2 linked regions of the Homo sapiens genome follow. The protein of the gene in region 2 purifies or fractionates together with the protein of the main gene of each other region. This does not show direct contact. Each region holds a gene or a part of one and is shown on either strand. Other genes may lie near its edges.

Region 1 (7,410 bases), on a different chromosome or scaffold from region 2:
TCCTAATACCGCTTAAACACTTAAAAATCATCAAGATGGTAAATTTTGTTACATGTATTTTACAACAATTTTAAAATTTAAAATAAAGCATAATGTTCACATCTTTTAAAATTATTATTCTTTTATTTATTCTTCTAGGTCAAGTGAAAGGACTACAAATCAAGATTTCTAATCAGAGAATGTGCTAAATATATATTTTCCCTATATGAGACGTGTTCAGTTAACAAGCACTAGCAAAGAAACAGAAATTTGTCTGAGACTATCTGCTAAGCAGGCAACGATCGCCTACCTTGTTTCAATGTATCATAACAGAAAATAGCTTAATTATATATAAATCTCTAAATACACTGGATTCTGAATACATAGTAACTGCTTAAATTCACATGTACTATTCTAAGTATTTATTTTAAACTAATAATATCTAATTAAAAGGGCACTCTAAGATGTGTTAATCAATCTGATTTTAGTCATCATTATACAATGCATACATATAGCAAATCATCACATTGTACATCTTGAATATATACGATCTTTGTCCATTAAATATTTTAAAATAAAAAATCACCCTGAGGAGATGCCAAACTAACTCAAAATATATTTAAAGTTGTTATATTATTTTTATTATATGTTTTTTAATACTCATATTTCTTCACAGTTGAATGATTTTTTTAAAAAATTGTACTAAGAACACTTAACATGCGATCAACCCTTCTAACAAACTTTTTAAGAGCACAATACAGTATTTTTAAATATAGGCACAATGTTGTACAGCAGCTCTCTAGAACTTGTTCATCTTGTGTAACCAAAACTTTATGTCCACTGAATTCCCCAGTTCCCCTCCAGCAGTCGCTCCCAACCACCACTCTACTCTCTGTTTCCATGAGTCTAACTATTCTAAATATGTCATTGACATGGAATCATGCACTATTTGCCCTTCCGTGATTGGCTTATTTCACTTCACATAATGTTCTTGAGCTCCATCCCATCCCTGTTGCCACATGCTGCAGGATTTCTTTTTTTTTAGGCTGAATAATATTCCATTGTATGTTTATACCACATTTTCTTTATGCATTCAACCATCAATGGACATTTATGTCATTTCCAAGACTTAGCTATGGTAAATAATGCTGTAATTAACACGGGAGTGCAAATATCTCTGAGATTCTGATTTCAATTACTTTGGATATATACCTAAATATATGTGACTACTATCCAGTAGAACTTGGATACATATTAACTCAATTAGTTGTGTGTGGGGAGGGGTAGAGAGCATGAATGTTGGCAGATTGCAGGAGTAAGGTTACATGTTACCTTGTAAGGATTTAGCAATCCTAGTAGGATTGCTGCTTCATATGGAATTTCTACTTTTAAGTTTTTGAAGAACCTCCATACTGTTTACCATAGCAGTTGTACCACTTTACATTCCCACCAAAGGTAATGGATTCCAATTCTTCCACATACTGGCCAACATTTGTTATGTTTTGATTTTTTATAATAGCCATCTCTACAGATGTGAGACGACATCTCATTAAGGGTTTGATTTGCATTCCAATGATGATTATGATGTTGAGCATCTTTTCATTTACCCATTAGCCATTTATATTCCTTCTTTTGAGAGATGACTATTCAAGTTGTTTCTTTGTTTGTTTTTGCCATTAAGTTGTAAAAGTTCCTTTTATTTGGGGACGATAGCCCCTTATCAAATACTTGTTTTACAAAAATTTTCTCCCATTCTGTAAGCTACCTTTACACTGTTGATTGTTTATTTTGCTGTGCAGAAGCCTTTTAATTTGATGTACTCTTTTTCTATATTCTTTTTTTTTTTTTTTTGCTTGTGTTTTGGTGTCATATACAAGAAGTCATTGGTAAGACTAATGTCAAGAAGCTCTTACCCTGTTTTCTTCTAAAATTTTATAGTTTCGGATCAGGTTGAAAGTCTGTATTTTGAGTTGATTTTTGTGTACAGTGTAAGATAAGGATCCAATTTTACGTATATCCAAGTTTTTAACACTATTTGTGAAAGAGACAATCCTTTCTTTATTGTGTTTTCTTGGCACCTTTGTCAAAGACCACTTAACTGTACATGTGTGGGTTTATTTCTGGGCTCTTTATTCTGCCTCATTGGCCTATATGTCTGTTTTTTATGACAGTGCTACAGTGTTGTAATTACTGTAGCTTTGTAACATGTTTTGAAATCAGGAAGAATGGTGTCTCCAGCTTTTTTCTTCGTTCTCAGATTGCTTTGGTTATTCAGGGTTTTTTTGTGACTACAAATGAATTTTAGGTTGTTTTTTCTATTTCTGTAAAAAAAAAATGCCATTGGGCTTTTGATAGGGATTATATTGATCAGTTTGGATAGTATGGAGATTTAAAAAATATTAGACTTTAGGGTTTTCTACAGATAAGATTATGCCATCTGCAAACAAAGATTAATTTACTTTTTTCTTTCTGATTTTGATGCTTTTATTTCCTTCTCTGGCCTAATTGCTCTGCCTAAGGTTTCCAGTACTATGTTGAATGGAAGTGGTAAGTGTAGAGAAGTGATTATTTTGAAAACGTGTATTATAACAAATCAATTCTAACTATAATCTTAGAGAAAATATGTACAAATAAATTTGAATATGGACAACATTTAGTTGGTTACAGGAACAGATGAAAATATTGATTTGAATCAATGATGAGATTGTGGAAATTGGATTTATGTTGTTATTTTACTATTTTCAATAAGGCAGTTTTAAAAATGAGAAAAGTCCAAAACAGACTAGAATTCTAACCCATTGTTAATTACGCATAAAAGAAAATATGTTTATAAAAATATATTCAAAATGCAATAAACTAGGCAGATGTTCACAAGTGTTTCCACATGTTGGTCACTCTGGTCACACTGTAAAACCCATTTATTAGTCTATAATATCATTGTTCATATTTGCCTTTTCTCAAAATCTCCATGTCTTAGTTAACCAAGAACACTAGAAAGCAAGCAAAAAAAAAAAATAGTAAAGAAAATTACTAAGTTTTTGAGTAAATAATGAGGTTTAATGTCAACTCTACAGTCTAATAGACACTATAAAATGTATAAAGTGAATGAATACGTTAATTTAGCCTCTTATTCTGAGGACTTATTAGGAAAACACCCACTAAGGTAATGTCCTTCTCTTGCAATCTTTTTTTCCCAGGATCTTTTCCAGCCTAAGAGTAGTGATAGATGTTTTGTTTGGATTTTTCTGGAGGGGTAGGAATTGTGGAAGGAGCCTCTTGAAGTGTTGTTTGCGCATGCTAGATATCAGTGAATTTCTGAAAACACGGTCAAAATTTCTCTCCAAAAGGGTTTCTCAAATACTCTGAAGAGAGATATTGTTGAGAAACTGCTGAGTTGAGTCCAGTCTGATGGCACTGTTTCCTTCAAGGGTTTCAAGTTGACAACTCATGATGAAATTCATAATTGTGTAAAGTGCATATATCTTAACATGTTTATTTCATCTGTAAATATTAATTACATATTTTGTATTGATTCTGTGGCTTTTATCTCTTTAACTGAGATTTTGTAACTGTAATTCTCGCGGCAGCTCAACAGTTTCAACGTTTTGTGGCACTAAACACCATCAAAAGCCATTATATGGCTCTCCAATCATTAAAACCTTAGTATTATGGGATCAGAGAAAAGATCTCTTTGCCTACCACCTGAGGAAAATATTACCATTATGTTGGAGATTAATGAAGTAAGGCTAAAGGCCAAAGGCAACATGGTCCTGTGTTCTACTTGACCCTGTGATCCTTTAGCACTGGATTGGGAGGCCAGGACATTTGTAAACTTTGACTTTCCAATGCACTCAGGAAAGTATGCAACCTATCCTTTTCCCTAAGCTTAAATGATTTTGATAATTAGTTTTTTAAAACTTATTATTTTTGCCCAGGTCGTCATCTTCTTATGTGATTTTTAGATGTTCGGCTTAAATATAGTGTTTTAAATAATAAATAACATTTAAAATATAAGAAACATCTAAAAGCCATCTTAGATTTTTCTTTCTCTCCTTCTCTCTCTCTCTCTCATTCTCTCCCCTTCTCTCTCTCTCTCTCTCTCTCTCTCTCTCTCCCCCCTTCTCTCTCTCTCTTTTTTTTTAAATCTTGGTACAGAGGAAGCGGGAAGTTACTTAGCACGGTTCCGGGTTTCTCGCGCCCCGCCTGTCCCCCCTCCCTATCACTGCTACTGGCTCTTGGTCCCTCCGTTGGACTGTCCTGCGGAGAGAAACCCCAGCCCATCGGTCTGCGCTGGGACCGCCCGCCGCGCATCTGCCCTTCTTCGCTGACTCCGCCCCGCATCTGGCCAGACCCGCCTCGCGTCAGAGCTGACCCACTCACTGCGCGTTTGCCAGTCAGTCTCTCCGGACCTGCCTCGAGCCTCAGGCTGCTGAAATCACCGCGCCTCACTCGGTCCGTACCCAGTGGGCATCTTGGGTATCTGGGCGGTCTTCGATCCCCCGCGCGTGTGTCTGTCTGTCTGTCTCTGTGTCCTATCCGCTGCCTGCAGCCTGCCTGCCGGTCTTATCGCACCAAGTGTCTGGTGTACCCTTTCGCAGACGCTGAGTGCGGAGAGGCCTTAGCGAAAGGCTAGCCAGCCCGAGACTGGCCAGGCAGCCGGCGGAGGAATACGCGCTCGGTCCCTGCCCTTGTTGATATCATTTTAAACCAACAGGAGCTCTAGGCCTATATTTATGCAGAAAGCGGGTCGGGAGGCCTCTGTCTGCAATGCTAGTTGTGGGGAACCAGCCAGCTGCTTGGTGGCTTCTCACAATTTCACGGGGACAGGAAAATTACGTTTCTGGTACTGGCTTTTGAAACTGATTTTAAATCTGAACGGGTGACAATTTTAAGTCCCCGCAGGGAGAATAGATTCGTATTTGGGGCGCCTTTTTGTCTGATGTGTTTGTTCTGAGCCTGCTGACCAGCTGTTTCTGAACTTCATTTTCTCAGCCTCGACAGTGATTCTGAGTCTGCTTTTAGCTTCCTTTTGCCTGCCTTGGCTTTTTCTGTTCGTGAACAGCTGTTTGGCCCATAGCTTAGAGAAAGCAGCCTTTTTTCTCTTCAAAGAGAACCTCCTCCCAGTGCTCAGAGAGATGGGGAGCGGGGAGCCTAATCCTGCTGGCAAGAAAAAGAAGTATCTCAAGGCCGCTCTGTACGTGGGTGACTTGGACCCAGATGTCACCGAGGACATGCTCTATAAGAAGTTCAGGCCTGCTGGCCCTCTGCGATTCACCCGAATCTGCCGTGATCCGGTGACCCGCAGCCCCCTGGGCTATGGGTATGTTAACTTCCGCTTTCCCGCGGATGCAGAGTGGGCCTTGAACACCATGAATTTTGATTTGATTAATGGAAAACCATTCCGCCTTATGTGGTCTCAGCCAGATGACCGCTTAAGAAAGTCTGGAGTGGGAAATATATTCATCAAAAACCTGGACAAATCCATAGACAATAGGGCCCTGTTTTACTTATTTTCTGCTTTTGGGAACATTCTGTCCTGCAAAGTCGTATGCGATGACAACGGCTCTAAGGGTTATGCCTATGTTCACTTTGACAGCCTGGCCGCTGCCAATAGAGCCATCTGGCACATGAATGGAGTGCGGCTCAACAACCGCCAGGTGTATGTTGGCAGATTCAAATTCCCAGAAGAGCGGGCGGCTGAGGTCAGAACCAGGGATAGAGCAACTTTCACCAATGTTTTCGTTAAAAACATTGGAGACGACATAGATGACGAAAAACTGAAGGAACTTTTCTGTGAATATGGGCCAACTGAGAGTGTTAAAGTAATAAGAGATGCCAGTGGGAAATCTAAAGGCTTTGGATTTGTGAGATATGAGACACACGAGGCTGCCCAAAAGGCTGTGCTAGACTTGCATGGAAAGTCCATCGATGGAAAAGTCCTCTATGTAGGGCGAGCACAGAAGAAAATTGAACGCCTGGCTGAGTTGAGGCGGAGATTTGAACGGCTGAGGTTAAAAGAAAAAAGTCGGCCCCCAGGGGTGCCTATCTATATTAAGAACTTGGATGAGACAATCAATGATGAAAAACTGAAGGAGGAATTTTCTTCCTTTGGGTCAATTAGTCGGGCCAAAGTGATGATGGAAGTGGGGCAAGGCAAAGGATTTGGTGTGGTCTGCTTTTCCTCTTTTGAAGAGGCTACCAAAGCAGTGGATGAGATGAATGGCCGCATAGTGGGCTCCAAGCCCCTGCATGTCACCCTGGGCCAGGCCAGGCGCAGGTGCTGAGAATAAGAATGCTCAGTTTGTTTCAGCCTTAGTTGGTGCCTCCTTAGTTTGGGCTCCTTTGTGATAAGGGGTTATTTTATGCTAATTCACAAGTTTTTTTTTGAAGTGAATTCTTTTGAAAAAAAAATGCAAAACTAGAAAACTTTATTCATTTTAGAATAGAACATAATTTCTAACTGTAAAATTGTCATTTTGTACTTTTTTTGATGTAATATCCTTAGAAATCTGTAGAATAAAGTGTATTCCTCCACTTTTTTTTCCTGAACAGTCAAGGTGAGGCAATTGATTGAGTATATTTCCCTTCTTATTTCAGTAATACTCTATTTTTTTTCATGAAAATGTCAACATGGTTCTTCTGAATCTATCACAGTGAAAAGTTCTAACTTGTTTTTGAGAAGTCAGTACAGCAGGGGAAAACATATGTGATGCAATTAACATCTGCATAATTTCACTTAAAATTATTATGCAAAAATGAATGTTTTTTCAAAAAATGTGAAATGTATTTTATTTTCTTTATTTGTATTCTTGTTTCATTTTTTAATATGTTGTGAACATGCTACAGATTTGATAGTACTTTTGACTAAATGTTGGGAGTGGTCGTATTAACTTCTTGCCCAAAGAAGTAAGCATATTGGTGTTTTCTCAATTAGTCACTGAGAAAATTAACACTTTAGGCAGTGGCTATTTAAAGTAGGAATTGCATCTTAAAAACCTTTCCTAAGAGATTTGGTATGTGAGGATACTTTCAGTACCACTCCTACCATTCATTTTTCTAAATTCCTTAGTACATATACTTGGATCATGTTAAATTAACAAGAAAGATGAATAACTGCGCTGAATTGCCTTTACCTATAAATAATTTAATATTTTACCTTCGGGTTTTATCAACTGTCAATATAAAAGGCAGTACTCCACAGAATGATGTTGAAAAACTTCTTCGAAGAACACCTTCTATTAAACTTGTTATCTCTTGTAAATTATTGTGTGTGTCCTTTTGATAATATTCACAGGTGTTTCAAAGGTAAGGAATAGGTTGTCTCTTGGATTAAGTCATATGCCTCCAGCCATTATATGAGAACTGTGAAACCAATATGGTTTTCTTTATGTCTTGGCTGCTTGAAAATTAAAAAAAAAAAAGGTTTGTTCA
Region 2 (7,095 bases):
GTAGTGATGGTTAGTTTTTTTTGTATTATTCCTCCAGTACTCAAATAGTCTTGTACTCTGCTTTGGTACTCAAATAAAAGGTTATAGTTTATAAGCTTACTGTGCTTTAACCTGGAACAGTTTATTTTACCCTAAACAATTTATTATGGTTAATTTTTTTACCATTAACAATAGCAATTAAAAAATGAATGAATCTTAAAGGCAAGTTGGATTTTATGCGTCGTTTAAATGATAATGTATGTTACTTTTTGGTAACATTTTTCATTTCTTGAGAAAGTTGATATTGTGTTGGTATTCTCCAGCTGAAGAAATTAGCAGGCAGAATATAATGATTTTTGGTTTTCAGATTTTAAAGTCTGTGTGTGTGTGTGTGTTTGTGTTTAAATGGGTGGGCATAGCAGCAGATGTGTGGCAAAAGTTACACACACACACACACACACACACACACACACGCACACACACTTTTCCAGAACAGTAATAGGAATATTACTTTGTTCTTAGTATCCATAGTGAGAATGTGTTACAAGAAATGAGAATAGGGAAGAAGTAAACTTTAACATTTTTGAGAGGCTCCTGGTTATTTTGTTTTAATGCTGAACCTTTGGCTAAAAATCCTCTATTTGAGCTCAGTTACCTTAAAAACAGTTTTCATAACTGAGTAATTTGCCTTTAACTCTTTGGTATATATTCCCAGTGGCCATGACAAAGTATGTTTTAAATTCCTCTCTATTCACAGATACATAGTGTTCCCATATTTTGGAAATCCAAGATTAAGTGGATTTGACTAAATCTGGCTTGTTAGGGACAGATGGCTGCTTTAAACAGGTGTCACTTTCATTTTTTACTGCATTGTGTTGGGACTTCCAGTGGTTGACAAAAGGGCTGTCTAAAGCAGGTGGCATCCTTTGCTTTTGTTGTTAGTAAAATCTACTTTTAGAGTTTTCTAGGAAAAGTTTTTTTTTTTTAAAGTAAAAGTTTTGAACTACTCAAGATTCGTAATTTAACATAACTTTTATTTCTGAATATTCTATTTTTAAGTGGTAGAACCTGCAGATTCTTTCACAAAACACTTATCAATTCTTATAAATAATGGTAAATTCCCTTTGAATCCAGAAAAAGTACACAGGAACATTTTACACACCCAAGTCAAACCCCAAGGCCAATTTGAATAAAGTGAAATTTGGTTAACATGACAAGTTAACTTTTGTCATCCTTTACTGAAATAATTTTTTGACAGCATTTTTTATATGTTGGAAATAGGTGTTGTTTTTGTTGGTTAAGTATTTTCAAACTAAGACATTTCCTGACTTCATTTACTGCTATAAAGTTTATAGTGATCTTTTAAAATGATAATATTTTTAAGTATTAATGTTCAAAAATATGTACTGCAGTAAATAAAAAAACTATCAACCTATTGATTTCTAAGGTTCACTTTTACTCTACAATTCTGTCCTTTTCTGTGGGAATTTTATATTTCTTATAACAGATGCACCAGAGGGTGCTGTGCTGTTTGCAACATGAGATTATTATCACTAAGAATGTGAACTCACTAGAACTTTTATTTAAAGAAAAAAATTTTTAATTATATATGCATTGAAGCATATAATAGGCTTATTTTTATGGAGTTTAACATACTATCTTAATTGGCAGTTTTACATCAGAACCTAACTTCGTGTACTAATACATATTACCGCAACATATAACAATATAAAGATTGATATCTTTGGCACTGTCTGGCATTAGTCCTATAGGCATATATGTTGATTATCTTATGTAGATATTTTAATCTTTATTTCAAAACTTAGGTTACCCTGAGAATCATACTATTTGGCGATATGTGGCTTTATACTTCTTAAATTTCATATGATTAGCACATATCAATAATTGTCCATTCTTATAACACTTTTACATGGCATAGTGATATGCTTTTTATTGTATAATCTTTAAAAAAACCACTGGAAAAATAAATGGCAATAGTGGTTATCAGGCTAATTCATAATAAAATAGTATTGACATTATCTAGATAATTCTGGCTGGTTGTATTGGTTCACATTTATAATCCCAACACTTTGGGACTGAGGCAGAAGGATCACCTGAGGCTATGAGTTCAAGAGCAGCCTGGGCAACATAGCAAGATTTCATTTCTGTAAAAAAAAGTAAAAGAAAATTAGCCAGCCTTGCCGGTGCGTGCCTGTAGTTCAAGCTACTCAGGAGACTGAGGTGAGAGAATTTTTTAGCCCAGGAGTTTCAGGTTACAGTGGGCTATGATCATGCCACTGCACTTTAGCCTGGGTGACAGAGCAAGACCCTGTCTCAAAACACCAAAAACAGAAACGAATGCAATCCGTACTTCATGCTGTTGGAATAGGCTAGTTTGATTGTTTAATTTGGCTTATTATCTGAAAACTTTTAGGTTCCCAGCCCTACTGTGTGCCATATACTTTTAAACTGGGAGTGATCTTATATTGCTTTTTGTATTTTATTTGTTCAGTGAGAGATTTTTAGGAGAATACTGAATCCAATCTTGGGCTACTTCTTGTATCATCGACTCTTTTCACAGCAATATATACTCTAAAAGACATACTGAAACAGTGATACCTTCCTTAAGTAAGCTTAGAAAGATACAGTTACAGCATATAAACTTTTTAATCTTGATAATGGATTTATCTGTACTAGTCCATATTTTACTATAATTAGTTAATTGTGATATTTTTATAAAGTAAGCTTACAAGGCATAGTAGTTCATGTGTGTTAGACTGCCTCAAAGAATCCAAAACATTTATTAAAGTAACACTATGTTTAAATACTGGTCTTGCTAAAATAGGTTAGGCATTTTTCTTTAAAAATATAGTCCTACAGTTTACCAGTTAGTTTTTGCCACTAAGATTTTTCCTTTTTTGAAACAGGGTTTTGCTCTGTCACTCAGGCTGGAGTGCAGTGGCATAGTCATAGCTCACTGCAGCCTCAATCTCCTGGGCTCACGTGGTCCTCCTGCCACAGCCTCCTGAGTAGCTAGGACTACAGGCTGTTGCCATCATTTTAAAATTTAAAACATTTCAATTTTTTTTTTTTTTGTAGAGACAGGGTCTTGCTACATTGCCCAGGCTAGATTTTTGAAAGTATACTTTATAGCAAGTTGTATTGCTTCAAAATCTTTATATTTGTAGTTTTTATTTCGTATCAAATGCAGAGTGTTCTTAGTGAAAACAAATCAGTTAAAAATGGAAACGTGTTTAGAGTATCAATAAATAGGTATAAATAGGTTTTGTTCTTTAAATAGATGGATAGAATAAGTATACTGGTGAATAACAGGCTTTGGAGTCAGATTTCAGATAATCTCATTAGTTGTGTGACTTTGGACAAGTTATTACCTTCACTTAACCTCAGTTTTCTCATTTGAAAAATAGGATCAATCTTCCCTGCCTTATGGGGTTTTGTGAGGATTAAAGGAGATAATTTATGTAACGTACTTTGCTCAGTATTTGACACAATATGTGTTCAATACGCGTTGGCTTTATTTTTAGGGAAGGCTGAGAAAATACCTATTCTAATCTTTTTGCTACCTAAGAATCCTTTGACCATCCCTTTTTTAATGAGCCCAAAAAGTTTTGAAAGACTTTGCTTACCAATTTATACTCATTAAATAATAATTATTCTTTTTCCTCCACTTTAAAAAATAAGGCACAGACAAGCTGCCAATCACAGGCTTGGATTATCATTTGATAACCAGTCTTATCACACTGAATTAATAGAATGCTAGCCCAAAGTTATGTTTTAGTTTTACTCTGCAGCCTTATAATGGGCTCCTTTTACTAGGTTTGCATAACTCTCCTGGTCAAAGGATTTTAGATTAAGAACTAATGATGTAATATGTCATTATCTGTTATACTCCCATTGTCCAGTTCATTGTCCCACTTATATTTTTATTTTCACGTTATACATGAATTATTTGAAAACAGTCTGAGCCCTATTTATAAACTTTATACTGAATGTAGTCAGTAAAGTTTAATAATAATAAATAGTCTAGTCAGTTGTGTAAAGATGAGTTTATCAAAGAATTATTCTACATTTTTATAATGCGTTGCTTAGAATTGTTACTTTACTAAGGGTAGAAAAATGTGTGAGGTTACTACTTGTGTACCTACAGCAATAAATAATTTTGGGATGATTTGTCAATCCCAATCTTGAGTTGTAAAGTAACCTTGGAACATTATTTAGTGTAATATATAATATGAAATCATAGAGGAAATATATCACCTGTGGCTTCCTTTCATTAGATATTAAAGATGTTTAAGTAACATTTTCAAGTTGGCTGCTTAATTATTAAAGTTGCTATTCAGTAATTTCCTTTATTTCTATATTTTTCCTGAACATTTTCATCAGAATGAAATACTTTTCTCATTTTAGAGTGATCTATAAACAGTCCTAATCTTTCTCAAACTGGAAATTTGACTTATATATTTCAGTTGAGAATTTACCTGATACTATATGTCTTTTCTTTTTTGCCAAAGCATTGTATATTGTACAGATGTTTGTCTGTGTCACTCATTTCACCATTCTCCCCACTCCCGTTAAGTGTTTAGTTATATGACCCCCTTTGCGTTATTTTTGTAGATAATTAGCCCCAACATATCAATTAGACTGACTCTCAGCTTAGCCACCTCCTCTGCTTCCTTTCGCCAGTGAATTTGACACAGATTTAAAAGGAACTTTTGGGAAAAGTTTAGGAAATGTGATTTGGATGGTCAGGTTATGCAGTCATACATTACTTAATGATATGGATATGTTCTGAGAATTACGTAGTTAGGTGATTTCATCATTGTGTGAACATCATAGAGTGTACCCAACACACACCTAGATGGTATAGCCTGCTACACGCCTATGCTATATAGTATAGCATATTGTTCTCGTCTATAAACCTGCGTAGCATGTTATTGGACTGAATACTGTAGGCACTTGTAACTCAGAGATAAGTATTTGTGTATCTGAACATATCTAAACGTAGAAAAGGTAATGCATTGTGTCAAGATGTTTAGTTGGTTATGATGTCACTGGGCTATAGGAATTTTTGAGCTCCATTTTGTTATGGGATGTGGTTTGTTGTTGACAGAAATGTTATGTGGTGCGTGACTGTATGGTTATTCTTACCATTTCCGATAGTCTATTATTATCTTACAATTTCTACTCATCTGACTGTCCTCTTGGACAAATTTATAACCTTGTTCCACTAACTATGTAATTTGAGTGTGGTTTTGATTCAGAAGGCTCCCTTCTTAGTCCTGGCTATGTACTGGCCTCTGGCTAAGTACCTTAGGGTTAAATCTGTAGTCCATAAACACTGTGTTTGCACAATCACAGATGCCTGCTGTTGTTGACTTTTAATTCCTGGATTCTCCTTTCTCACTTTTATTAGAAGCAGTAATACCCAGCTAGTACTGCTTGCCTTTGCTTTAGAGTGCTTGGTCAAGATTTCTGAAGGTTCTTGGTAATTCCTGTTTAGGCAAAAATGAGGTATTGGGTAATAGGAGTTGAGCTTAGGAAAACTAATAGAGTGAGACAGCTGTCCTCAAAATAATAGTGTGTTAGTTGGTAAGAGGAGACAGATACAGTGAAAGATGATAAAAGGAGAAAGGACAGCGAGTGACCAGGCCAAGATATAAAGGACTTCAAAAATGCTAGCCAAAGGAGGTTAAAGAGAAAATAAAGGTTCTCACTCTATTTCTAACTGTAAAACCTTAGCCTGGTCACTTATACCCTATAGGTCTCAGTTTCTCCATCTGTAACATGAAACAATAGGGCTATGGGATTTCTAAAGCCCTTTCCAATCTATGATTCTGTAGCAAGATTGACACTGGGAAAGGGAAGGAAACATGCCAATAACATGGAGCCAGGAATTGGCATTTCCCTTACTCATGTTCTCAAAGGCTAGCAAGTTGTTTGCTTATTGTTTCTTCTGGTAAGAACAAGAAAGAAAGAAAACCCACAGCCTGGTGCTAGCATAATGGCCATACCTATAGCAAAGTCTCAGAAGGTTCCACCATTTCAATGGCTTCTGTAGAGAGTGGTGGCCAAGTGCCCTCATTTTCTCACCCACATAGGAATTAGCTGAGTCTCACAGCTTGAGCTCCTGCCGGAGCCAGCTTCTCTATGTGTGTGTGCCAGACAAGTGTCTGACATTTGGGGCTCCTCCTGTCTGTTGCTCACCAATGAGATATTTAAAACAGGACATAATTTCCCGAGTATGTGGATAGGCAATTTAACAGAGAGAGAGAGAGAGAGAGAGTGCGAAAGCGAGCTAGTGCATGTGTGCTCTCTGATCAGAATAAAAATTAATTTAGGTTTCTGTTGATCTCATTTTTAAGACATTTCTTCCCCAATTATTGAAGCTATTCAACTGGTTTTTAAGAAGAGCTAAAAATCCCGTCAAGGTCTAGACAAGCTCCGAGAGCCTTTGGACTACTTTGGGGTCCCTGGTCTGGAAAGCATTGCTATCCTCCACACTAGTCTCATATTTTTCCATCGGTAATAGTTACTGCTTTTCTTTTTCTTAATATTGTTTATACTTGGATAAGCATTCTTTTAATTCAGCTTTGGTAGCAGAAAAATAGTCTTTTGTTTAAGAAGTATACATTTTCTTAAATTTTAAAAAATTTTTAGTTTAGGCTGGGTGCGGTGGCTCATGCCTGTAATCCCAGCACTTTGGGAGGCTGAGGCGGGTGGATCACGAGGTCAGGAGATCTAGACCATCCTGGCTAACACGATGAAACCCCGTCTCTACTAAAAATACAAAAAATTAGCTGGGCGTGGTGGCGGGCGCCTGTAGTCCTAGCTACTCGGGAGGCTGAGGTGAGAGAATGGTGTGAATACAGGAGGTGGAGCTTGCAGTGAGCCGAGATCACGCCAGTGCGCTCCAGTCTGGGCAACAGAGCAAGACTCCATCTCAAAAAAAAAAATTTTTTTTTTTACTTTAATACTACTTTGGTTAGTAGACTTCTCAAGATTTTAGAACATAGCAGGCTAAAAGAGGAAGCATTTTTGCATTTATTCAGGATAAGTCATATATTCTGCTGTAACTCAACTCTTTTACCAGCCTAA

The links. The genes of interacting proteins can lie anywhere in the genome.
Region 1: the proteins of RFX3 (region 2) and PABPC5 purify together in Homo sapiens (affinity purification with mass spectrometry; 2 studies listed by BioGRID and IntAct, with this or other methods). This does not show direct contact.

Annotation. Positions count from the first base shown.
Region 1 is NC_000023.11:91,430,464-91,437,873, forward strand, and holds the start of PABPC5 (polyadenylate-binding protein 5), read left to right. Parts: upstream 1-4,375; 5' UTR 4,376-4,431; intron 4,432-4,439; exon of another isoform or gene 4,440-4,536; intron 4,537-4,971; 5' UTR 4,972-5,114; coding exon 5,115-6,263; 3' UTR 6,264-7,410. UniProt on the Homo sapiens protein: Binds the poly(A) tail of mRNA. May be involved in cytoplasmic regulatory processes of mRNA metabolism. Can probably bind to cytoplasmic RNA sequences other than poly(A) in vivo.
Region 2 is NC_000009.12:3,515,914-3,523,008, reverse strand, and holds part of RFX3 (transcription factor RFX3), read left to right. Parts: intron 1-7,095. UniProt on the Homo sapiens protein: Transcription factor required for ciliogenesis and islet cell differentiation during endocrine pancreas development. Essential for the differentiation of nodal monocilia and left-right asymmetry specification during embryogenesis.